Linked DNA regions of Homo sapiens. The protein of the gene in region 2 interacts with the protein of the main gene of each other region in a pairwise test. Each region holds a gene or a part of one and is shown on either strand. Other genes may lie near its edges.

What was found.
Region 1: the proteins of WWOX (region 2) and DMRT3 interact in binary tests that used the Homo sapiens proteins (3 or more experiments, as listed by UniProt).
Region 3: the proteins of WWOX (region 2) and LMO3 interact in binary tests that used the Homo sapiens proteins (3 or more experiments, as listed by UniProt).
Region 4: the proteins of WWOX (region 2) and JPH3 interact in binary tests that used the Homo sapiens proteins (3 or more experiments, as listed by UniProt).
Region 5: the proteins of WWOX (region 2) and CEACAM6 interact in binary tests that used the Homo sapiens proteins (3 or more experiments, as listed by UniProt).
Region 6: the proteins of WWOX (region 2) and KLK6 interact in binary tests that used the Homo sapiens proteins (3 or more experiments, as listed by UniProt).
Region 7: the proteins of WWOX (region 2) and FAM222B interact in binary tests that used the Homo sapiens proteins (3 or more experiments, as listed by UniProt).

What each region holds. Positions count from the first base shown.
Region 1 is NC_000009.12:989,444-992,232, forward strand, and holds the end of DMRT3 (doublesex- and mab-3-related transcription factor 3), read left to right. Parts: intron 1-597; coding exon 598-1,562; 3' UTR 1,563-2,289; downstream 2,290-2,789. UniProt on the Homo sapiens protein: Probable transcription factor that plays a role in configuring the spinal circuits controlling stride in vertebrates.
Region 2 is NC_000016.10:78,435,154-78,438,653, forward strand, and holds part of WWOX (WW domain-containing oxidoreductase), read left to right. Parts: intron 1-3,500. UniProt on the Homo sapiens protein: Putative oxidoreductase. Acts as a tumor suppressor and plays a role in apoptosis. Required for normal bone development. May function synergistically with p53/TP53 to control genotoxic stress-induced cell death.
Region 3 is NC_000012.12:16,554,163-16,557,662, reverse strand, and holds part of LMO3 (LIM domain only protein 3), read left to right. Parts: intron 1-3,500.
Region 4 is NC_000016.10:87,693,008-87,696,507, forward strand, and holds part of JPH3 (junctophilin-3), read left to right. Parts: intron 1-1,629; exon of another isoform or gene 1,630-3,134; intron 3,135-3,500. UniProt on the Homo sapiens protein: Junctophilins contribute to the formation of junctional membrane complexes (JMCs) which link the plasma membrane with the endoplasmic or sarcoplasmic reticulum in excitable cells.
Region 5 is NC_000019.10:41,762,030-41,765,529, forward strand, and holds part of CEACAM6 (cell adhesion molecule CEACAM6 preproprotein), read left to right. Parts: coding exon 1-194; intron 195-3,500. UniProt on the Homo sapiens protein: Cell surface glycoprotein that plays a role in cell adhesion and tumor progression. Intercellular adhesion occurs in a calcium- and fibronectin-independent manner.
Region 6 is NC_000019.10:50,966,792-50,970,865, reverse strand, and holds the start of KLK6 (kallikrein-6 isoform A preproprotein), read left to right. Parts: upstream 1-1,274; 5' UTR 1,275-1,376; intron 1,377-2,098; exon of another isoform or gene 2,099-2,274; 5' UTR 2,275-2,325; exon of another isoform or gene 2,326-2,349; intron 2,350-2,512; exon of another isoform or gene 2,513-2,593; intron 2,594-2,753; 5' UTR 2,754-2,761; coding exon 2,762-2,801; intron 2,802-3,369; exon of another isoform or gene 3,370-3,540; coding exon 3,541-3,697; intron 3,698-4,074. UniProt on the Homo sapiens protein: Serine protease which exhibits a preference for Arg over Lys in the substrate P1 position and for Ser or Pro in the P2 position.
Region 7 is NC_000017.11:28,766,291-28,769,790, reverse strand, and holds part of FAM222B (protein FAM222B), read left to right. Parts: intron 1-3,083; 5' UTR 3,084-3,123; coding exon 3,124-3,205; intron 3,206-3,500.

The DNA.
Region 1 (2,789 bases), on a different chromosome or scaffold from region 2:
AGAGGTATCTTTCACTTCAGCAATTGAATTAGCTAGCTATTGTATATGGTAACCTGATGCAACTTACTGATTGGTTCATAAGACATATTTAACACAAAATCAGCCTATGGGAAAATAGATTTCAGATATTAAAATTCCCTGTGGGTATCTGGATGGTACTATCCCTAGATAACAGCTGGGGACCTTATTTGCAGAAGAGGAGCCGGAAGACAAGCTGAGCTGATTTTCCTGTTTCTCCCTGAGCTTTGCTCTTCCAGGAGTCCCCCACCCCTCCTCCCAAAGAGGCTCTCTATTGAGATTGTTACTGCTATGAAAGCCATATGTTACAGGTTCATGTAGCCATTCTATGTTGAAGGCAAGCTTCCTTGCACAAAGCATTCCAGGAAGCCACTCTGATTTCTAGATCTTTATTTACAGGGTTTTTGTTTCATTTGCCAGTGATATAGTTCGAATTTTTTTAAAAAGGCTTGTAGTATATTATGACCCATTGAGATGCATTTGCTCTTCCAAAAAGCACGTGTACAGGTCTCTTCTGAGCACATCTGCTCCTCTTTATGCACACCAGGAAAAGATTAACTCAGCTGTTCTGTTTTCCAGATTTGACTGAAGAACGACTTGGAGACGGCAAGTCGGCAGACAATACAGAGGTCTTCAGTGACAAAGACACTGACCAGAGGAGTTCCCCAGATGTGGCAAAGAGTAAGGGCTGCTTCACCCCTGAGAGCCCTGAGATAGTGTCCGTGGAGGAAGGGGGATACGCTGTCCAGAAAAACGGAGGCAACCCCGAGAGCCGCCCTGACAGCCCCAAGTGTCACGCGGAGCAGAATCACCTCCTGATTGAGGGCCCCTCGGGGACTGTTTCTCTGCCCTTCAGCTTGAAAGCCAACAGACCGCCGCTTGAAGTGTTAAAAAAGATATTCCCCAACCAGAAGCCAACGGTGCTTGAGCTCATCCTCAAGGGCTGTGGCGGGGACCTGGTGAGCGCCGTGGAAGTCCTTCTGTCCAGCCGATCCTCAGTCACGGGAGCAGAGCGAACTTCCGCAGAACCTGAGAGTCTAGCGTTGCCCTCCAATGGGCACATCTTTGAACACACCTTGAGCTCCTACCCCATCTCGTCTTCCAAATGGTCTGTGGGATCAGCCTTTCGAGTCCCAGACACGTTGAGGTTTTCTGCCGACTCTAGCAACGTTGTCCCCAGTCCCTTGGCTGGGCCTCTGCAGCCCCCTTTCCCCCAGCCACCCCGGTACCCGCTGATGCTGAGGAATACTTTGGCGAGAAGCCAGTCGAGCCCCTTTTTGCCCAATGATGTCACCCTGTGGAACACCATGACGCTGCAGCAGCAGTATCAGCTGAGGTCCCAGTATGTCAGTCCTTTCCCCAGTAACTCTACCAGCGTCTTCAGAAGCTCGCCCGTCCTTCCTGCCCGCGCCACGGAAGACCCTCGGATTTCCATCCCTGATGATGGGTGTCCATTTGTGTCAAAGCAGTCCATTTACACCGAGGACGACTATGACGAGAGGTCTGACTCCTCAGACTCTAGAACACTCAACACATCATCTTAAAGTGGTGCTGGATGGGTGGTGGCCAGGTGACATTTTCTGTGCGTTTTGACCCTGAGGCATCTGAGGAGAGGCCACATCTTGTGTATGCCCTTTCCTTCTGTTTGACAAAGTGACTGTGCTTGATTCTATACATTAGCAATAAAAACATAACTTATTTAACTTCTTGCACTTCACTGGAAAATGCCAAATAGCTCTGTTCTGTGGCTTTAGTGCTGAATGTTTATTGTAAAAGAGAGTCTAATGTTAAGAATAGTCTTGGGAAGGCTGGGTCCGTGGAAGATTTATTTGGGGATGTAAAGCTGAAGGTCAGCCTTGCACCTAAACCCAACCTGGAATGTTAAATGAAATAATATACTTGAATGCAATTTTGTAAAAGTGGATTCCTCAGGATATGTGAAACCTAAAGGAAGTGGTTCTGTTGCAAATGGACTATAAACAGGGACATTATATTCTTACACTAAAAATCCTTGCATTTTAAAGAGAGATGCACTTAAGAATAGAGTGAACTGCTCATATGCTTATTTAAGCTTGGACAGTTTTCAGAGACAAACCCCATTAAGAATTACTCTTTTCACATGGCTGAATCGAAACATGTGTAATGTCAATGTAAAACCAATCACAGCTGTGAACTGCATGAAATGTATTGTGAAACGAACACAAGATTAAGCTTTGTCAGGTTAATGTAGCATGTTAAGGACTCTAGAAAAAAATAAACTAAGGAGACGAGCGTGGTTTATGTCATTTCTACTTGTGGAAAGAGGATCTCTAAAAATAGAAACTTGATGTAAAAATGACTTTTACTAACGCATGGGCCAGGAATCAAATTATCAGTTAAATGAGACATTCCTGAGAAATATGAATGGCAAAGTTTTAGGGTTGCATTCAGAAAGATAATTTGTTCAAAATGGAGTTAATTCTCTCCATCCATTCACTTATTCAACAGATACTTACTGAGTGCCTACTATGTGTAAGAGAATGTGCTTTCCATGTATTGTCCAAGTTACCTACCCGTGAGTCCTAGATAAGCAGATATTTTAGTGGAGAATCCCATTGAAAACAAAGTAAAAATGGAAAACTCCCAACAATGTATAGTTGAGTGTGGGAAGCAAGGAAAGTGCTTAGCCCAGTACCTGACATAGGAAGTATGCAGTCCATGAAAACTACTGCTTCTATTAATGAAATTCAGTAGCCTTGCATTCAGAATATAGACGTGCATTCCTTCATTCT
Region 2 (3,500 bases):
AACCAGAGTATGGGGTTAGAAATGGAGGCAGAGGGACTACCATGTCGGGGAGGATGCACAATGAATTGGACGAAGGTTGCAACTCAGTGAGCACCGTACCTGTAGTGTGTCTTAGTAATAGCAGATGCCCAACCTCCATGCCTAACTCCTTTGCCTACCCCACCAGTGTGCAGCAGCCTCTGCCGCACCCTACTGCAGTCTCTCCTATTTCCCTGGCAGGAGAGCTCAGAGACTACTTGTGAACAGGCCTCAATGCCTATAGCAAGGCAAGGCTTGGGAGAAACAAATGTCCTCTGGGAGCAGCCTTGGGTAAAAGATTAACTGCGCACTGAGCTTTAGATCCCTGAGTGAGAAAGCTGTGGGAAAATGAGTGTGTAGCTCATGAGAGGGTTTGGAGAAAAGTGGTGACATCGCAAAAATCCCAGGTTTTGTTGAAGTTGTCTGTGGAGGGGCACTCATAGAAAGGGCACTGGACGTGAGCATTTCCCTTGTAGTTGAGATGGGATTTGACATGACTTCCTGGTGGTGGCAAGACAAGAAAGTGGCAACCTGGGACAGTGGACCTCACAGCTCTCCTGCTAATGGTGCTGATGGCTAAGCTCAGCTCTTACCCTTGACCACTGGAACAACTTAGACATGTCACCAGCTTTCTGAGCCTGTCTCATTACGATGAAAATTGTGATACAGGTTAGTGTAAGGACCGACAATAATGCATATAACATCAATAATGATGGATATAGAATTTCTGCAGTTATTATAATCTGGCTCTCCAGTATGGTAGTCGTGGGCCACATGTGGCTATTGAGTTCTAAAAATGTGGCTAATAGAACTGAGGAAGTGAATTTTCAATTTGATTCCATGTTTGTTAATTCGAACTGAAAAACACCACGTGTGCCAAGTGGCTGCCATACTGGAGAGCGTGGTCAAATGACATGCCTAGCTCAGTGCCTTTCGCATGGGAGGTATGCAGTACTTCCTGCCACGATGGCTGTTACTCTTGTCGTTGTGAGCAGTGCCTTGGTCCCGATGATGATTCTCCAAAATGTAATCTCTGCTGACAGAACAAGAGTCTGCAAATTGGGAGTCTGGAAAGGGAAGAGAAGGGCTTTGTCCCTGGCCCCAAAGACTCAGGGAGAGGTTTACTGGCCAGGTAGAAAGGGCGTCCAGGTGAAGGGACCCTGGTTCAGTGATCTCCAACCTGCACGTCTCATTTGTGAGGAAGCCGTAGGGTGTGGACTTTTCTTGTTTCTGACCTTGAGTGATTAGAAAATAGCAGCTTTTATATGTCACAAATGGACTTTAGATAAGCATGAAGATGACGAAGACTGTGGAATATGTAGCTAAGAGTCTTACTAAAATCCTCTCTAGTGTATTTATATATTTAAGCGTTTGGTAGTACTTTTTTAGCCATCAGCGTTCTCTATATTAGGTTGATACAGAAGTTATTGAGGTTTTTGCCATTGAAAGTAATACGTCACTTCATGCAGAGGTGGAATTGGCGCTCTGAGCTTGCTTGTCAAATTCACAGGCATTCACTTTTCTTTCATAAACATTTAGGACTCTGTATTTAGGAGAGGAATCACTGTGAATGTAGACCTCGGGTTGGTCATTTTCCTAGTAAGATAGACCAGACTGACTGGAAAAGTCACCCTCTTGGGCTATCCTGCGTATGTGGCTCGGCATTGCTTCCGTCAGGATAATGCATCAGTTTCTTGGACAAAGGGTGCATTTCTGCTATTTGAATGCAGACATATTTTTGGATATAAGCCACGCAGTTGCATCCCATTTCTTCCGTAGGTAAAGGCTGGGTTTCTAATTGTGATTGAGAAGCTTAGCATAGATGCAATGTCCCTATCACCAGATGGCTAGTGTGCTCTGCCTTGTCTGCCTTTTACCTTAGAGAGGGTGCTTCCTTCTGACACGGGTATTGCTGGAGTACACATTCTGTTGCATGAGGTCAGGGGAGCAAGAAATACAACCCAGACTTGCGCTCGGAAGCCCTGCCTTCATTTCTTCTCTGTAGCTGGCTCCCTTAAGTATTAAACAGCAGTATTCTAATATCAACGTCCCTTTTTTATTTGCTGTGACTTGCTGTGACTACGGTGATTTTAGTTACAGTAATTAGGTCACTCTTCATGGAGTCGGGCTATTTTAAGTGCCTCTTTAAGGAATATTGTTGCAGATCAGTAATTTTACAATTGGATGTTCTTGTGCAACTTTATTAAATGTGATCTGTCTTTTAAATGTTGCCCTTTTACAGTTACACATTTCTAATTGTTGCTGTAAATGCATTATCACTTTGAAATTAATTAATTTTTCCATTTTGGCTGCCTGCAATATAATAATCACTAATGAGAAACTCACAGGAATCAATTCTCAGCACAGCGGCCCCTACTGGTAAAGCCATGTCTCTGCCTCCCTCTTCTTCTTCAGATCCAGAGAACTGGACAAGTGTATTGGGGCGTCCTGGGAGGGAAGTGTTTGTTTCTTCCTCCCTTCAATTTATGGTGAAATAAAAATCACAGATAAACTTGGAAAGTGAGTTATTTTTAAGTGTCGTTCTAAAAAAGATGCAATATACTTCAAATAGCTGCTTCTAAAATATGTTAAAGGAAACTAACATTTGCTGAGTACTTTCTAATAATGAAGTCACATCATACGTGCATTACATGTTTATTTTCTTGACTCTAGAGCATTCTTTTATGCAGTTAAATTACTCTAAAATGTTTTGCACCTGCACGCATTAATGTGTATTGTTTGGTAAGAACTTTCGAGTTGGTGAAAAAATGTATTGTATTTTAGTATCTATATTTATATATACATATTAGTCTATGGGTTTTAATTCACAAAACCAGGTGTTGTATCTGGTGCACATAAGGGATTTTCAAGGCTAATCTTGGGTTTTTGCAGTTGTAACCATGTGTGATGACTTTAGAATCCTACCACACTTCCAAATAGAGATGCAGATTGACCATTTTCCCAGATACCACGATGCTTTATGTATCAGCATATATTTTCATTAATTTCTCATAATTTCTGTTAGAATTAATAATTCCAAGTTCTACAATCTTAGAATTATTATCTTTATTTTGTAATTGAAAAGCACAGAAACCTCATGCAGCGTGTTCAAGAAAATGATATACCAGCCTTGTAAACTTTCACTTGCTAATTGCAGCTGCATTTGCTTTGTCCAATGCACGGTAATGCCCCTGGCATCCATATCTAGTTATGCAGTTATGCTTCCTTTTTAAAATGTTTGACAGCACCTTCACTGAAATGAATGCTGCCACCACCGCCAACCCCACCTTTTTTTTTTCCACATAAGCTTTCATTTCTGGTAAATACATCCTTGCCAGAGTTCCCAGGTCCAAGCCGGTCCTTTGTGGACCAGTATGCAGATTTGAAGTTGAGCACTGTCACTTGCCTCTTAGGAGTGTTTTGTGCAACCACATATTTGTGTTGGCAGATAACAGTAGAAAGAATATCATGTGTTAGGGTAG
Region 3 (3,500 bases), on a different chromosome or scaffold from region 2:
AATAGTCCACTAACTTGACTTTCCCACAAGACATATATCACAATAGAGTTTCTTGCTAAATGTAGATATTCAGATTGTATAAAAACAAATGCTCATATCTCTATCTGGTTAAATTCACAGAGCATGATTACTTAAACAAGGTATATAACAGTTTGAAGGCATATGCTGTACATTGCTTAATGATCTCCAGGAAAGTTATACCAATTATTCTCCTAGCAGAAATCTACAAAACTACGCATTCCCTCACATTCATTCTAAAACACTAGGAATTACGTTTAAAAAAAAAAAAAAAAAATCCTTGCCACCTTAAGGGATGAAAGATAGTATTTCATTATAATTTCTAACTGGCATTTATTTGATCCCTGGTGGTCCTTTGGTATTCCTTCTTTTAGAGAAGTAGGCAGTTTATGTCCTTTGTCCATTTTCTTCTATTAAGTAGGGTTACCTATTTTATCCATGTTCTACATAGAAAATAAAAACATTCAAGTGCTAAACCCAGCCTAAATTCTATTATGATGCAAAGTAATTGTAGGTTGTTAATGCTATTTACAAATCATATATCTATTTTATTTCACCATTGAAATAAAAAGTTGCATTCACAATTAAGTCTGTCTCCTCAGGAGAACTCAGTCAAGTAAGACAAACACTCCTAAATTTTGACTCTAAAACTGTTCACATTCTTATTGCTGCGAAATACTATTCTAGTATCATTATTAAAGTACCTAATATATTTCTGTGTTCGCTTCATTTATTACATGCCATAATGGGACTGCATATCTTTAGTGCCGGTTATGCACAATTAGCACTTAGTTATTGTCTTGTCACTTCAGCCCCTACAAGACAAACTAATGCGGGAAGTCAGCTAATCTTCATCAGTCAAGCAAAGCAGACAAATTTTGTTACCCAGGATACAGAAGGTTTTCATATAGGAGATTCTCCTTTTACTCTGAAGTTTGCTTCAGTCTCCTCCAGGAAACCCATATCCCACTTCCAGTAGCCAAATCATTGTCGCAATATTGCACTTTTCAAGTGAAACACAAGGCAAATAGGTAATTCATAGGCATTTTCTCTTAAGCAAACTTTATTGACGTCTAAAGTTGTGGAATTACGCGTTTGTGAATTGTATTCAGCAGTCATTTCATCTTTACCTTTAAATCAAAGTATCATTAAGATCCAAAGCATTTCTGAATGTTTTAAAAAGTAGCAGTAATAATAACCTTTCAGGATTGATTGTCCCTTATATATAGATCTCCTCTGCCCCTTTTAGAGGCGTATAGCTAAAACGTGAATCCTGCATTAAAATTCGGCTAGTTTCTCTATTTTAAAAGGTACCGCAGGAGGGTTATTTAAGCTTATTTTATGATATCTTGAATCTCATTCAGAATTGGAAGATTCTATATAACAGGTTAATTTCTTAAAGGTGAATAAGCCCCTTCTCCTTAGAAAACACAATAAAACTAAATGATAGTTTTGTAAGAAAAGGAAAAATAAAAAGCTTGTGATGAAATTTTCCCAAATATGTAAAATTATGTAACAATTAATTAATTTTCTTTTTTTTAAGAATAAAGCACTGTGCTAGGCTCTGTGGAAGCTGAGGTGGATAAAATCTGGTTTATTTCTTAGAGGTGTCCGGAGCTACGGGAGAGACAGGACATCAAAGACTCACAGAAGAGTGTAATCGATGCTAAATAGAGCTATACTGAGGGAAGAGAGAGCCATCCTTCTTGAAGTGTTAGGGAAGCATCAAAGGCCTGATATGCTGGGTCTTGAAAAAAGAACTCCCTAGAACTGGTTGACTTACAGGAAGTGTGTCTGCTCGGGGTTGGGGAAGATGAGGGAGCCAGGGAGCAGTGAGGAAAGGAATTTTCAGGCAAATTGAGCAACGTGCAAAGGCATGCAGATGTGAAAGCATTTGACGTGTTTAGGAAATGAAAAGCGGCTCAGTATGTTCAGAGATTAGAGAAGCGGTTTGGTAGGCACATGGAGGAGTAGAAAGAGAGCAAGCACCTAGAGGAAATGAAATTGTAAACTTAGTCTTTGAAAAGCCATTAAATAAAAGTCAAAATGAATACAAATTTAAATTAGTCATCTAAAATACATTTGTTATTTAAAGCTGTTGGTTTCTGGAATAAATCTACCTTAACCAATTTTTATTGACCACACACCTTAAGTGGTAGTACAGTTTATGATGGTTCTGCAAAGGGTTCAAAAGAAATATAACTCGTGGTCATTTACCGCAGAACTGCTGACTATAATGGCAAACCAGTTACACATTCATGAGAAATTTTGAAACACCAAAATAAACAATACACCAATAAATAAGTGCTTTGGGAAACATCAGAATAAGCAAATTTACATGGTCAGAAGATGTTGATGGAGGCAATGGGAACTCAAGGATTGTTACAATTTAAGTAGACAGAAAAAGGGGAGAAATATTTCTTGCTAGGGAACAACTTAAGTAAAGGTGAAAAGATTATCATTACCAAATAATAATGATAGCAAATTCTGATAAAGTATTAGTCAAACACCAAACACCGTTCTGAGTGTTTTACATGTACTCATTCGTTTAATACTCAAAATATCCCATAAATAGGTAGTTATTAGCTTCATTTGACAGATGAGGAAAGTAAAGTATAGGAAATGTAAGTAACTTGCCCAAGATTACAGTTAGAAGAAAGTGGTAGACTCAAGATTTAAACCTGGCCGGGCGCGGTGGCTAATGCCGGTAATCCCAGCACTTTGGGAGGCCGAGGCGGGCGGGCGGATCACGAGGTTGGGAGATCGAGACCATCCTGGCTAACACGGTGAAACCCCGTCTCTACTAAAAAATACAAAAAAATGAGCCGGTCGAGGTGGCGGGCGCCTGTAGTCAGAGCTACTGGGGAGGCTGAGGCAGGAGAATGGCGGGAACCCGGGAGGCGGAGCGAATCTGGTCTCCCTCTCCGGAGTCAGGCCCATTTCAAGAGAGGTATTTTATTTTCTGACTAAGAGCATATAAATGTGAATAGATATAGTGGACTTAAAGTAAGGTAAACTTTGAATAATGTATAGCAAGATTTGGGGTGTGGGTAGTGTCATTTGATACACTAAGGGTTGTTAGCAGTGAGATGTATAATGACAACCGGACTGTCAGTGGGAAAGACAGTAAATTTGTTCACAGGTGTATAGTGGAGGAATGAGTACACAACCCGGACTTCTTATTGAAAACAGTATAGTATAGAAATCTCTAACTTACAGTTAACTGAAGATGTGGAATAGGAAAGTATAGACACTAGAAATATGGATTGGAGCTCCCTAGCTAAGTGTTGTAAGATAGAAATTAATCATAATTGTCAGTCACTAACATTAGGGAAAGAAGATGGCTAGGCTAACATTTTTATTTCTTAAAAGGGATGTTACCAGTGGAGGCTTCTTAGCATAGGCTTTTGATAACCTGCTTAAAACTAAGCACTATATTTTATAAGGATGATTTACTATTTACACTTGTTTCATATACTTCT
Region 4 (3,500 bases), 9.3 Mb from region 2:
TGGGCCCTTGGCTGTTCTCTGCCCCCTGCAGGCTGGCCCGGCCCAACCAAGTTGTCATGGGGCCCAAGACTCACAATACACCTGCCTGAGGCCACGATGCCACGGAAAGCTGGGCTCAGGGCAGCTTGCTTTCTCTCTGGCTGAGTGGAGGCCCTTGCTGTGTCCACAACTCCACTTCCATCTGCGCCTCAGGTCCCTGATAGGCTGGGAGGTTGCGGAGGGTGTGGGCCTGGTGCTGCTGTGGCTGCAGGTGCCCCCTAGGCAGCACCTCACCCTCTGAGGACCCTCCTCTCTGAGCTGCATCCCAAGGACAGTTTACAAAGCCCTTTGCTGACTGGGGTTCAGCTTATCTGTTGAGCAAACTTTTTCTTTAAAAAGTTTCTTGGCCAGGCACGGTGGCTCACACCTATAATCCCAGCACTTTGAGAGGCCGAGGCAGGTGGATCACCTGAGGTTATCAGTTCGAGACCAGCCTGGCCACCAGGGTGAAATCCTGTCTCCACTTAAAAATACAAAAATTAGCCGGGCATGGTGGCACACGCCTGTAATTCCAGCTACTCAGGAGGCTGAGGCACAAGAATTTCCAGAACCCGCAGGAGGCAGAGGCTGCTGTGAACTGAGATCATGCCACTGCACTCCAGCCTGGGCAACAGAGCGAGACTCCATCTCAAAAGTTTCTCAAGCCAGTGTCTCTAGGGCCTGAGGGCTCCAATCCCCAGTGTGAGGTGAGGCGCTCGGGCCTGGGAGCTGATGCCCAGCATACAGTCGGGGGTGCCCCTGCCAGGTGTGGTGCAGAGCACGGCGGGGGTGTGTGAGACCTGAGGATAGCGTCTGGATGTTTCTCTCACGTTAACGGGAATGAGATAGGCTCATTGGCTGCTCATCCCCAAATCCAAATGGAAAACCGCCATTCGGGCCAGGCAGAGGCAAGTACTCCCACCCGTTGCCGCTGCCGTGTTGAGCCCACCGTGCCGAGTGGTGTTGGCAGGAGCCTCCCGAGGAAGCTGTGCCAACGCAGGAGTGGTCAGAGCCTGTCCAGGCCACAGACGGGGCTACGATGAGCACTGCTGCCCAGGGCATGTTGGGGGCAGCTCCTGGAGACCACAGGGAGGGGAGGTGGGCACCCAGGTGTGGGCAGAACTGGACCAGGAGGAGGAGGGGCAGCAGCTTGCTCAAGGCACAGGGCCTCAGCCACAGGGTGGCGGGCTGGGAAGGGGCGAGGGTGTGGTGGGTTCTGAGTGCCCCATGCAACGGCTGTTTTGGGCCACGTGCTCAAGCAGGCACCCAGGGAAGACCAGCCTAGGTGCTGGCGTGAGGCCCTTCAACATCAGCTACGATGCTGCTTCATCAGGAGCACAGCCTGGGGAAAGAATGAAACTGACCCAGGAGACAAAAGGGTCCCCGGGCCAGACGGTCAAGCAGGAGGCTGCTTCGCTGCCGCGGGATGTGGCATCCAGGCTAGGCAAGGGGACGGCAGGCTGCCATCCCCAGAGGGAGTTCTCCGGGCAAGGCCGTGACCCCACTGGGGCTCTGAGTTTGCATCCTTCCTGTGTGTCAAGAGCAGAGCCGGCCACTGCCAGCCCATAGCTCCCATGGTGCGGCCCTGGAGAGCTGACTTCATGCGGGATGTCTGCTGTTCTTTGCGTAGCTTTACTGAGACAGAAAGCGTGTACTGTTCACTTCAGGTGGCCACAGTGTACAAGTCAGGGATTTTAGTGTATTCCCAGTTATACAGCCATCACCCCCAATTCTATCTAGATCAGCTCCATCACCTTAAACCTCAGGGCCATTGAGCAGGCACTTGCTGTCCCCTCCTCCCCCAGCTCCCGGACTCTGCTTTCTGCCTGGTGCCCAGCTTCTCACGCAGCATGCACTGCTCCTGCGCTTTCTCTGTGGCAGCCGCGGTTGCACGGCCCATGTCTTCCCCGCTGTGTGTTCATCCTCCACTGGACAGCTGGCTCTGCTTCCACTCCGTGGCTGTTGTGAATCCTGCTGCCGGGAGTGTGTGCACACACAAGGTTTTGAGTGGAGGCTTGACTTTGCCCTCTTAGATTTAGGCCTGGGAGTGGAACTGCTGGGTCCCCGGTGTTCTCATCAATTCTCTTCCAGTCTCTGGGAGAGGAGCCAGCAGCAGCTGCTTCGTTGTGGGTGGGGGGAAGGGGGAGGCCCGTTGTTCGGGCTCCCCTCCTTAATGCAGGCCTGAGCAGCCCTCACCTGGTGCCACATGAGCTACTCAGTCTTAACAGACCACCCCATCATGTCTTTGAAATTTGACCAGAGGCCAGACTTGGGGGCTTAAAGGAGTCCATGGAAAACCAGTCTGTTAACAGGGAGGGGGAGGAGAGTAGCCATCCCTGAGGAATGTGCATCCTGGGACCTTCAGGACAAGCCCTGGTCCATCTGTGTCGCACAGCAGCAGGATGTCTGCGTGGTAGGAAGTGGAGGGCTCCGGGGGCTCTGAACAGCTCCTTACCACAGTGGGGTCTACATCTCCTTCCAGGTGGCTGCGAGATGCAGGGCGTGGTGGGGGTGGGGAGAGGCAGGGGCAAGTGTCCTCTGGAAGCAGACTGTGGGCAAGACTGGAGTGGGTGTCCCAGCCATTCCTGGGCTGGGGCCACCGTCCAGGAGGCGTCCATTCCCTGTGCAGCAGGTACTGTATCTGTAGGGCAGCACCCACCCCTGCCGTCCTGGGAGCTTCCCAGAGGGGCCACGCTCCCTCTCCCCCTGCCTGGTGTGAGCAGAACACAGCAGAGTGCAGGACTGCAAGAATCACTGCAGAAGGGCGCCCCCGGAAAAGGCTCTGTTGTGAGACGTGTCCTACCTGGCCCCGGCAAGCACAGGGAAGGTGGCAGCTTGGTCCGAGTGCCCAGGCTGTGCGGCTGAAGGGGGAGTCTGGCACTTGGGGCTCCGGCGGAGGCTGAGGACTTGTGAGCCACTTCAGGGAGGTGGTGGCAGCAGCATTCAGGACCATAACCTAAATCCAAGGCAGCTCGCAATTGGACACAGTCCTCCAGAGCCAGTTGGCGTGAGGGGTTTGTTGAGGAAGGTGTGGTGAGGGGGGGTTTTGTTGAGGACACTGTGCTCACGGACTTTGGGAGTCCTCTGAGTTCCAGGGCCTCTCTGCTGGGCTGCATCTGACACTGGCCATGGCAGCCATGCGGGCCCTTCTGAGATTCTGAGGTCCCAGTTCCACAGGGCAGGAGAAGCCTGCTGACTGGCACAAAGGCCACACGCACCGAGACGTTTGCTTGCAGGGAGGCCTGGGTGGTTCTCTCCAAGGGGACCCTGGGAGAGCTGGTACTCAGGGTGTCGGGGCCACAAGGGAATTCCAAGGGAATTCCAGGACCAGCAACCTCAGACGTACAGGCAGCTGGGGCTTCTCTCCCGCGTCTGGACTTCACGGAGCTCAGGTTCTGGTGGGCCTTTGGTGTCCAAGCGTTTCTAACATCCTCCCGTACGCTTCCACCCCCGAGGGTCTGCTAGCTTGGTGAAAAGACGTG
Region 5 (3,500 bases), on a different chromosome or scaffold from region 2:
GAACCTCTCCTGCCACGCAGCCTCTAACCCACCTGCACAGTACTCTTGGTTTATCAATGGGACGTTCCAGCAATCCACACAAGAGCTCTTTATCCCCAACATCACTGTGAATAATAGCGGATCCTATATGTGCCAAGCCCATAACTCAGCCACTGGCCTCAATAGGACCACAGTCACGATGATCACAGTCTCTGGTAAGTGGATCCATGAAGCACTAGCATCACATTTTCAGGTGGAGTCTGGCTCTCAGAGAAGAGCCAGGAAGAAATTTTCTTTCCCAACCTGTGTCCAAGGGGCACACGCAAATCCCAAATTCTCCCCTGAACCCTCCCAATTCACCTCTGCAGACTCTTTTCCCCTTGTTTTTTTGTTTTTTGTTGTTTTTTGTTTTTTGATTTCTCATGTCTGACTTTGGGTCCATCCTGGAATGAGAGGAGGGGGCTCCCTCAGCACTGAGCCCTGTGTAGTGAAAGGGGCTTCACAGAGAAAAAAGGAGGAAGGGTCCTCAGGGTCAAGTTCCTGCTCTCTGTCACCAACAATTCCCTTTCTGTCACTTCTTTGTGTTCTTTTACCTACTCCATAAGCTACAAGGGACAAGGAGGTTTTGAAATGAGCTCACACTTTTTCCTTAAATGAGAAGAGGAAGCCCCTTGGGTGATGGAGGAGCAGCTCAGACTCTGCCCCCATCTCTGCTCCCAGCACCCCCAGTGACTGACTGACCCCACCCTGAAGCCACCTAAGGTGGAACCAGGGCATATGGAGAAGGTGCCCAGGTGTCTGTCCTGAATCAGGCTAAATCAAGATGCTAATCAACACCAAAGCCTCCCCTGGATCAGGCCGCAGGAAAATGGGAAGACATGGAGCCTCATGACAGACTGCTGAGCTGTGTCCTGGCTCTGAAGTCACTGGCTGTATAAGACTGTGGGCACAGCACATGGGACACAGCACAGAGGACAGCAAGTGACGCACACTTGGAGACATAGGGAGATTCAGCCATGGGGACTCTGCATGGCAGGGAAGGGGCAGTGACAAAAAGTGTGTATTTATAGAGAGGATAAGACTACCAGCCACTATGTATCTAATATAGGACTTACCTTTTCAACCCTTCCACGTGTGCAGGTCCGTAGTATTAAACACATTCCCGTTGTTCTGCTACCATCACCACCACCCACCCACAGAACTCTCTTCTTCCTCCCAAAATGAAACTCTGTTCCCATCAAACTCCTGGGCAGAGCTGCCCACCTGTGACCCACAGCCTGACCCCTGAACTCACCTCTAGACTTGCTTCTGGTCTCCCGCTCAAACCCCCATCCCCATCATCACCCATCTCCAGGATGTCCTTAAATAGCAAAGCCTCAGAAAAAACACACCTTGGCTGGGTGGTGTGGGACTGTGCAGCTGAAAGAAACAGCACCTGCATGTTCCAGGTGAGTACCCCAAAAGACCAGGCAGTCAGCCAGTCAGGGAAGAAACAGGAGAGGTGCCAGAGGCTGTGGCTGTCAGTCCTGTATCTGCCCAAGACTCAATGCTTCTGCCCTATTCACATTTGAGAAAGTCTGTACTTCTCCCACACAAAGCAGGTGGCCTCGATCTCCGAGCCCTCAGATCGTTGTGCATCCGTCTTCTGACACACACACCTGCCCTGGGCTCTTAAGGACTTGGGTGGACTGAGGGGTGGGAGATGCCAACTCTGACTGAACGATGCCTGCAGAGGAATCAAAGGTGCCACACACGGCAATCTTCTCTCTGTTTTCTGCACAGCGGAGCTGCCCAAGCCCTCGGTCACCAGCAACAACTCCAACCCTGTAGAGTTTTCTACATATAAGTTTAAGTTATCTGTGAACAGAGATAATTTTACTTCTTTCCGATTTGGATGTCTGTTTATTTGTTTGTTTGCTGCCTAATTTCTCCAGCTAGGACTTAAAACACTATGTTGAAGAGAAGTGGGGCAAGCAGGCATCCTTGTCTTGCTCCTGGTCTTACAGGGAAAGCTTTCAGTCTTTCTCCATTGAGTATCCCTCTATTATGTTGAGGTGGTTTCCTTCCATTCACAGAGTGTTTTTATTTATAAAAGAATGTTGAATTTTGTCAAATGCTTTTATTGGCTAAATCTTATTACTAATTATAGGTCTATTCAGATTTTTTTGTGTGTTCCAGGAATTTGTCCGTTTCATCTAGGTTATCCAATTTGTTGGCATACAATTATTTACCGCACTCTTTTAATCTTTATTATTTCTGTAGAATTGGTAGCAATGTCATCAATTTTTTTGAGAGTAGGTCTCACTCTGTAACCCAACCCAAGCTGGAGTGCAGTGGCTTGATCATAGCTTACTTGCAGGCTGAACCCCCTGGGCTCAAGTGATCCTCCTACCTCAGCCTCCTGAGTAGCTGGGACTACAGGCATATGCCATCATGCCTGGCTAGTTTAAAAAAAAAAAAATGTGGAGACTGTGTCGCCCTATGTTGCATAGGCTGGTCATGACTTTCTGGCCTCAAGCAACCCTCATCCTCTGACCTACCAGGGTGCTGGAATTAAAGGTGTGAGCCACCATGCCCCCATTTTCATTTCTGATTTTAGTAATCTGAATCTTCTCTTTTTTTCTCAGTCAACCTAGTAAATGATTGTCAATTTTGTTGATCTGTTTTGAAGAACCAACTTTTGGTTTCATTGACTCCCTTTATTGTTTTTATAGCCTCCATTTTATTTATTTCAGTTATAATTCTTATTGTTTCCTTCATTCACTATCTTTGGGTTGATTTTGTTCTTTTTCTATATCCTGAATTTGTAAAGTTAGGTTGTTGATTTGAGGTCTCTCTTTAATGTAAGTATTTACCACTATCAATTTCTTGCACAAGATTCTTAACTTCTCTGAGCCTTCAATTCTTCAACTGAAAATTGCAATAATTCTCATCACTAAGAAATGGGTGGAAAAAATGAAAATTGAAATAACAATGCCTGTTTCATAGTATCGTTTTGAAGATTTAATGTAACATTTGATTAAGCCTTCAGCAAAATGCCACACACAAAGAAAAGCTTCACAAATATTAGCTATTATTATTACTACTGTTACCATTAACCTTAAAGTCAGGTAGTCCTAGAGTCAAATTCTAAATCCACTTGTCACTAACCATGTGACTTTGGATAAGTTTTCTCATCACCCTAAGCCTCTGTCTTTTCATCTGTAAAATGGAAATAATGTCTACCCAAGAGAGTTACTGTATAAATCAAATGAGATACAGGTAAAGTATTTAGCACAGGGCCTGGTATCTAGGACATGCCCCTCAACAGTAGCTAACCTAGCATTAACCATCGCACTGAGATGACTGGTGAGGGCTAAGCACCAAATGGAAACTCACTAGGACATGGTTACTGGCTAAACATGGGAGAGAGGAAAAACAGTGCAAAGAATCAAGCCTGGTATGTTAGCTTTCATCCACTGAGATGCAGCCAAGATGGGATTAGAGGTACAAGATAATTCACTGGGTAAAACAGCCATGAG
Region 6 (4,074 bases), on a different chromosome or scaffold from region 2:
GACTTCCCCCTCCTCATTTCTCTCCACTCTGCCACGCACACACCCTCACCCTCCAGCCCATACCAACCACCCCAACCACTGCCTGTGGTTTCCCATGTGCACCCAGGCCAGGCATTTTCACGGCCTTTCCTCCTGACCTACGCCTGGCTCAGCTTTCTAGGCCCAAGTTCAAAGACACCTCCCTAAATCTTCCCAGATCCCTCTGCTACTGCCCAGCACCACCATCTTATCACAGCCCCACGTCGTTCCCAAGTGCTCTCCGATTTCTGCTTAACTCCATGCCTCTCGCTGTGTGTCCGCATCTCATCAATAAGTCCTCAAGTCCTCTTCCATCCTGCTAGCTTCCTCATCGCTCGGGAATCATCCCCGCTACTTCCTGGGGAAACTGACTCCCTTCTGGGCACACACAGTGCTACCCCCGGGGAAATCTAAGAAGAGACCCAGGAGAAGATAAGCACGGAGAGTCAGAGAATCAAGGGGAAAGAAAGGGAGAGAGGCCGGGCACAGTGGCTCACACCTGTAATCCAGCACTTTGGGAGGCCAAGGTGGGTGGATCACCTGAGGTCAGGAGTTTGAGACCAGCCTGGCCAACATGGTGAAACCTCTTCCCTACTAAAAATACAAAAAACATTTAGCCGGGCGTGGTGGTGGGTGCCTGTAATCCCAGCTACTTGGGAAGCTGAGGCAGGAGAACTGCTTGAACTCAGGAGGCGGAGGTTGCAGTGAACTGAGATCACACCACTGCACTCCAGCCTGAGTGACAGAGCAAGACTCCGTCAAAAAAAAAGAAAGAAAGAAAGAAAAGAAGGAAGGAAAGAAAGAAGGAAGGAAGGAAGGGAGGAAGGGAGAGAGGAAGGGAGAGAGGAAGGGAGAGAGAGAAAAAAAGAGGGAGAGAGACACAAATACAGAGACTGAGATGGGAGAGAGAGAGAGATGGAAGCTCCCTCCCCTCCATGGCCAGGGAGACAGATGGAGCAAGAGACCTCAGGGGTGGGCAGACTTGGAGGAGAAGGACCAGGAGGATGTGGAGTGCCGAAATCTCCAGTCAGGGCCAGGTGGGCAGTCAGAGACTGCAAAGGAGGACTGTCAGACAGGGACAAAAGGAAGCCATTGATGTAACCGCCCTCCCGCCTGCCCGCCGGAAGAGAGGTTGAGGCCGGAGCTGCTGGGAGCATGGCACTGGGGTGCTGGGGGCGGACAAAGCCCGATTGTTCCTGGGCCCTTTCCCCATCGCGCCTGGGCCTGCTCCCCAGCCCGGGGCAGGGGCGGGGGCCAGTGTGGTGACACACGCTGTAGCTGTCTCCCCGGCTGGCTGGCTCGCTCTCTCCTGGGGACACAGAGGTCGGCAGGCAGCACACAGAGGGACCTACGGGCAGGTGTGTGAGTCACCCCAACCGCACTGAACCTGGGCAGGCTGCTTCCCAGTGCCGGAGGGCTCTAGAGCCCGGAGTGAGGGCCTGCAGGTCCCTGGGTGGCACAGAGAGTGCTGGGGGTGCAGGGAGGCCTGGGGCACCATCTGCTTGCCCCAGAGGCCGGAATTTGTCTTCAGACACTTTCTTTCTCCAAAACCCGGAGGTCTAAGGACTGAGCCGACTAGAACTTCCTCTGCCTCAGATTCAGGCCCCAGCCCCTCCTCCCTCAGACCCAGGAGTTTAGGTCCTAGCCCCTCCTCCCTCAGACCCAGGAGTCCAAGTTCCCACCTCCTCCCTCAGACTCAGGAGTCCAGGCCCCCAGCCCCTCCTCCCTCAGACCCAGGAGTCCAAGTTCTCACCTCCTCCCTCAGACCCAGGAGTCCAGGCCCCAAGCCCCTCCTCCCTCAGACGCAAGGGTCCAGGCCCCCAGCCCCTCCTCCCTCAGACTCAGGAGTCCAGGCCCCCAAGCCCCTCCTCCCTCAGACCCAGGAGTCCAGGCCCTCACTGCACTCAGGGACCAGTGCTCCCTTCCCTGGAGGCCTGGTCAGGGGTCACCAAGAGCAGAGCGTGGGGGCGGGAGGAATGTGTGTGGGAGGCCTGGGTAAGGAGGAAAAGGGTGTAGCCAGTCTCCTGGCTCAGGGACCTGAGAGACAGGGGTTAAAAGGACGTTCCAGAAGCATCTGGGGACAGAACCAGCCTCTTCCAGGGAGGCCTGGGAGCTGGGGGTGTGTGTCTGGCAGTCCCTGCAGCCCTGGGCTCTGCGGCCCCTGCGTCCTCCGCTTGGCTCTGCCACTGCATCTGAGTGTCTTCTCTCCTCACGGCTCCCCGCATTTCTAACTCTTTCTGCCTCCTCGTCTCAAAGCTGTTCCTTCCCCCGACTCAAGAATCCCCGGAGCCCGGAGGCCTGCAGCAGGTGAGATCACAGACATCACAGAACCTGCCGGGTGGGCGGGGTGGGTGGCCATTGCGCACAGAGCCAGGCTCCGAGGAAAACTCCCATACAGAGGAAGAACGCTAGGGCCCCCTAGGGTAACCCTCTCCTGTCGACAGGAAGGCAAATCAGTGCCCAAGAAAGTAGAAAGATCTAATCAGAATCTCACCATGGGTTACTGGACCAGTGGACGTAGTTCTGAATTCTCTTTGGCACTGTTTTCGTGGGATCCTCTGATGGAAGATGTGGGCTGAGGAAGAATAAATCAGGAGGCTAGATGGGAAGGACAGAGGTCAAGGCAGGAGACCATAGCAGGCCAGGAAGGAAGGAGAGGATGCAGAGGGAGCAGACAGAGGGATGGGGGGAGGGTCGAGGCAGTGACTAATGGACCATGTGGCTTCCCCTCTCAGGAGCGGCCATGAAGAAGCTGATGGTGGTGCTGAGTCTGATTGCTGCAGGTGGGGAAAGGGCATTTGGATGGGGGAGGCTTGCAGACAGGGTTGGGCTTGTTGATGGAGAAGAGGCTGGTATTGGGGATGGGGATATGCACAGGGTTGGGGTGGGGGAGCTTTGAAATGAGGAAGACGTTGGGGATTAGGCTAAGGGTGGGGAATACAGATAGGGAGGGTGGTGGGAGGTGGGTTTGAAGATATGAGGGTTTGGGGTGGGGTTGGCTTTAGGGATGGGGATCTAAACATAGAAGAGGTAGGAGGTAGGTTGGAAAGTTGGAGAGAGCCCGGGAATAGGGGATACAGTTGGGTTTGTAATGGGAATGGGGTAAGTTTGGGAGTGGAAATACAGAGAAGCTTTTTTTTTTTGAGACAGGGTCTCACTCTGTCACCCAGGCTGGAGTGTAGTGGCATGATCCATAGTTCACTGCAGACTTGAACTCTTGGGTCTCAAGTGACCCTCCCACCTCAGCCTCCCAAGTAGCTGGGACTACAGGCGTATGCCACCATACCCTGCTAATTTGTGTGTGTGTGTGTGTGTGTGTGTGTGTGTGTGTGTGTGGAGATGAGGTCTCACTGTGTTACCGAGGCTGGTCTCAAACTCCTGGGCTCAAGCGATCCTCCTGCCTCAGCTGGGATTACAGGCATAAGCCACTGCACCTGACCAATCTTGACTGGAGTTCATGTTGAGGGGGATGCGCTTGGTTTCTCCAGAACTCCTCTCTGACTCAGATCTTCTCTCCCTCAGCCTGGGCAGAGGAGCAGAATAAGTTGGTGCATGGCGGACCCTGCGACAAGACATCTCACCCCTACCAAGCTGCCCTCTACACCTCGGGCCACTTGCTCTGTGGTGGGGTCCTTATCCATCCACTGTGGGTCCTCACAGCTGCCCACTGCAAAAAACCGTGAGTCTACACTGTAAATGAACAGCAGATGCGACTGAACCCTGAGGGTGTCTTATAGATGTCAGGCAGGAGGTGACATAGGCATCCCCCCCATCCCAGCACGAGGCCATCTGATAGCCAGGTGCATTCGGCTGTTGCTTAATTGAGTACTTAATGTGTGCCAGGCCCTGCGGGCATAGCAGTGGAAAAGAAAATAAAAAAAAGAAAACAAAAAAAAACAAGCAAAATTGCTGTTTTCCTGAACTTACTTTCTAATGGGGGAATTGGATCATTTGGGGACCTGCAGGGCGTGATGGGCATTTGGATTTAATTCTGAGCACAGTAGGAAGCCACTGGGCAGTTTTGTTTTTGTTGTTTGTTTGTTTTTTGAGACACAG
Region 7 (3,500 bases), on a different chromosome or scaffold from region 2:
AAACCATGGTGAGACCATGGTGGCTGGAAGTAAGTCAGCAAGAGAGGGCAGGGTAGGTCAGAAGGTGAGGTCAGAGAACCAGTAGTAATAGATCATGGAGGGCCTTGGGGTCCATGTTAGGATTTTGTATTTTATTCTTAGATGGAAAGTCATTAGAGATATTTAAGCTGCTCTGACTTTCAGTTAACAGAATTGGCCGGGCGCGGTGGCTCACGTCTGTAATCCCAGCACTTTGGGAGGCCAAGGCGGGCGGAACACGAGGTCAAGAGATCGAGACCATCCTGGCCAACATGGGGTGAAACCCCGTTTGGGCCAGGCACGGTGGCTTACGCCTGTAATCCCAGCACTTTGGGAGGCCGAGGCGGGCGGATCATGAGGTCAGGAGATTGAGACCATCCTGGCTAACACTGTGAAACCCCATCTCTACTAAAAATACAAAAAAAAATTATCCGGGCATGGTGGCAGGCGCCTGTAGTCCCAGCTACTCGGGAGGCTGAGGCAGGAGAATGGCGTGAACCCGGGAGCGGAGGTTGCAGTGAACCGAGATCGCACCACTGCACTCCAGGCTGGGGAACAGAGCAAGACTCCATCTCAAAAAAAAAAAAAAAAAAAAAAAGAACTAACATTGCTGAATAGAGAATAGATTGGGTGATAAAGGGTAAGCGTGGAACAGACCATTTAGAAGGCTAATAGTAATCCCATCTAGAGATGATGAGATGACAGGTGAAGTTTGTTACCTGTTTCCAAGGCTTGAGAGACTCAATTAAGAAAACATCACTAAAGCCCCTCATACAGCCCATTTCACAGTTTTAGCTCCCAGTACTTGTTAATTCTCTTCCTTTCCTTGGAGTTTGCCTTCAGCTGTGTTAGGGTCTTAAGGGAGAAGTTATTATGTAAAGATCAGCATCCAGACCCCAACAGAAGTCTCTCTTTTTTTTTTTTTTTTTTTTTTTTGAGACAGAGTTTTACTCTTGTGGCCCGGGCTGGAGTGCAGTGGCGCAGCCTCTGCTCACTGCAACCTCTGCCTTCTGGGTTCAAGCAGTTCTCCTGCCTCAGCCTCCTGAGTAGCTGGGACTACAGGCATGCGCCACCATGCCCAGCTAATTTTGTATTTTTAGTAGAGACAGGGTTTCACCACGTTGGCCACGCTGTTCTCGAACTCCTGACCTCAGGTAATCTGCCCGCCTCGGCCTCCCAAAGTGCTGGGATTACAGGTGTGAGCCACCGTGCCCGGCCAAGACTTTTTTTTTTTCTTGAGGCACTGAAGTTGGCTCACTGTGTTCATTCTGTTTTCCCACCCACCAGAGATCTTAAAAAGACTGACGCTGTGCCAGAACTCTTGGACAGCTCTGTTCTCATTAAGGCATTCAATCTTCAGTTCTTTCTGCAGTTGCTATCTTAGACACAGTTTGAGCAGCCTCTTTTACAAAGTGTCTTTTCAGCTACCTGGTCTTGGAAGCAGGAGCCCTCTGATACTCATCATGACAAGGTAGTTTAATATACCTGAGAGAGCCCTCTCAAGAAAATAAGGAGATTTTTGTCGTCTTTAACTTTTGAGCTTTTCCCCCACTCCTTTTTTGCTGTGATCTAAAGCCATAATTTGCCACCTTGGTTTCTGAAATATGGGAAAAGAAGTTCGTGTACTTATTTAGGAAAATCGTATTTCTGTTACCTAAGGAGCTTGCATTGTTGACAGGGCTTCTTTCGCTACAGAAGGCCCCATCAATGTCTGCTTGCTTGGGCTGTGTATGTCTGGTTGGTAAACATCACTAATGAAACTCGTGCGGTCTTGACATGTCAGGATTGCCTGCACGAAGAGAGCTGCTGGCAGCCTTTCTCCTTGCTTTAGTCTGGGAGCAATGCATTTCTTTTGAGGGGGTGGGAGAGGTAGTTCAGGAGGTCTAATTGCATGTCAGGAAGGGTGAAGCCCCAGAAATTTGCAAACAGAATTTGCTTTAACAGTGGTTAATTGTGCCTCCTAGGATGCTTTCCTCCTTCCATTTAAAAGTGAGTTCGGCCGGGTGCGGTGGCTCATGACTGTAATCACAGCACTTTGGGAAGCTGAGGCGGGCGGACCACCTGAGGTCAGGAGTTTGAGACCAGCCTGACCAACATGGTGAAACCCCATCTCTACTAAAAGTACAAAAATTGGCTGGGCATGGCGGCATGCGCCTGTAATCCCAGCTGCTAGAGAGGCTGAGGGACGAGAATCGCTTGAACTCAGGAGTCAAGGGTTGCAGTGAGCCAAAATTGTACCACTGCACTCCAGCCTAGGTGACAGCAGAACTCTGTCTTAAATAAATAAATAAATAAGTAAATAAATGTAAGTTCATGGCCGGGTGCAGTGGCTCACACCTGTAATCCCGGCACTTTGGGAGGCCGAGGTGGGCGGATCAACTGAGGTCAGGAGTTCGAGACCAGCCTGGCCAACATGGTGAAACCCCGTCTCTACTAAAAATACAAAGAAATTAGCCAGGCGTGGTGGCGGGTGCCTTTAATCCCAGCTACTCGGGAGGCTGAAGCAGGAGAATCGCTTGAACCTGGGAGGCAGAGGTTGCAGTGAGCCAAGATCGCACCATGGCACTCCAGCCTGGGCAACAAGAGTGAAACTCCGTCTCAAAAAAAATAAAATAAAAGTGGGTTCATATTACTGGCTCACAAGTCAGACATTGGGTACCTTTGCAATCATATAATGTGCTGCTTCTGAAAATGTCTGGCTGGTCTCCAACCAGGCCTATAAATGGGCTGGCTGAGCCAGGCCCTATGAGGGCCCACTCTCCTCAGGAATACTGAGACATTATAAATGCACCTGTACTTTCCAGTTGTATGAATAGGTGCTTTCCAGTTTTATTTCTCCCATCCATACATCTGTGGTAACTGAAAAATCATTTTAACCATAGTGATATTTGACAGCAAATTGTCGTCACAGATAAAGATGTAAGTATACTTTCAACCAACACACTGCTAATTAAATTGCTTTATGTGTCTAAACTTGGGCCTCACGCCAGTCATATCCAGTGTTCCTACTCTCTTCTTCGAATGAGTTGCCTTGTGTTTCATGACCTTGTTTTTGTTCATTACAGTGTGAGCCACTGCCCCATGTTGTGTTGATGCCAATCTGCCATGCTAGCCTGTCTACCAGGGCCAGGTGACCTGTCCTTTCAGCTTCTTTCTCACACGCAGATGAACACTGGACTTCAGAAATGTAAGTAATCTGGATCCTATGGAGCATGTGTGATTCTTTGTTTTTGTCTCTACATTTGGGCCGTCCTTGAAGCACATCTGGGGTACACTGACCTTGAATTTTGACACCTTTCTTTTTTTTTTTTTTTTAAGACGAAGTCTTGCTCTTGTCACCCAGGCTGGAGTGCAATGACGCGATCTTGATTGGCTCACTGCAACCTCTCCCTCCCGGGTTAAGCAATTCTCTTGCTTCAGCCTCCCGAGTAGCTGGGATTACAGGTGCCCACCACCATGCCTGGCTAATTTTCTATTTTTAG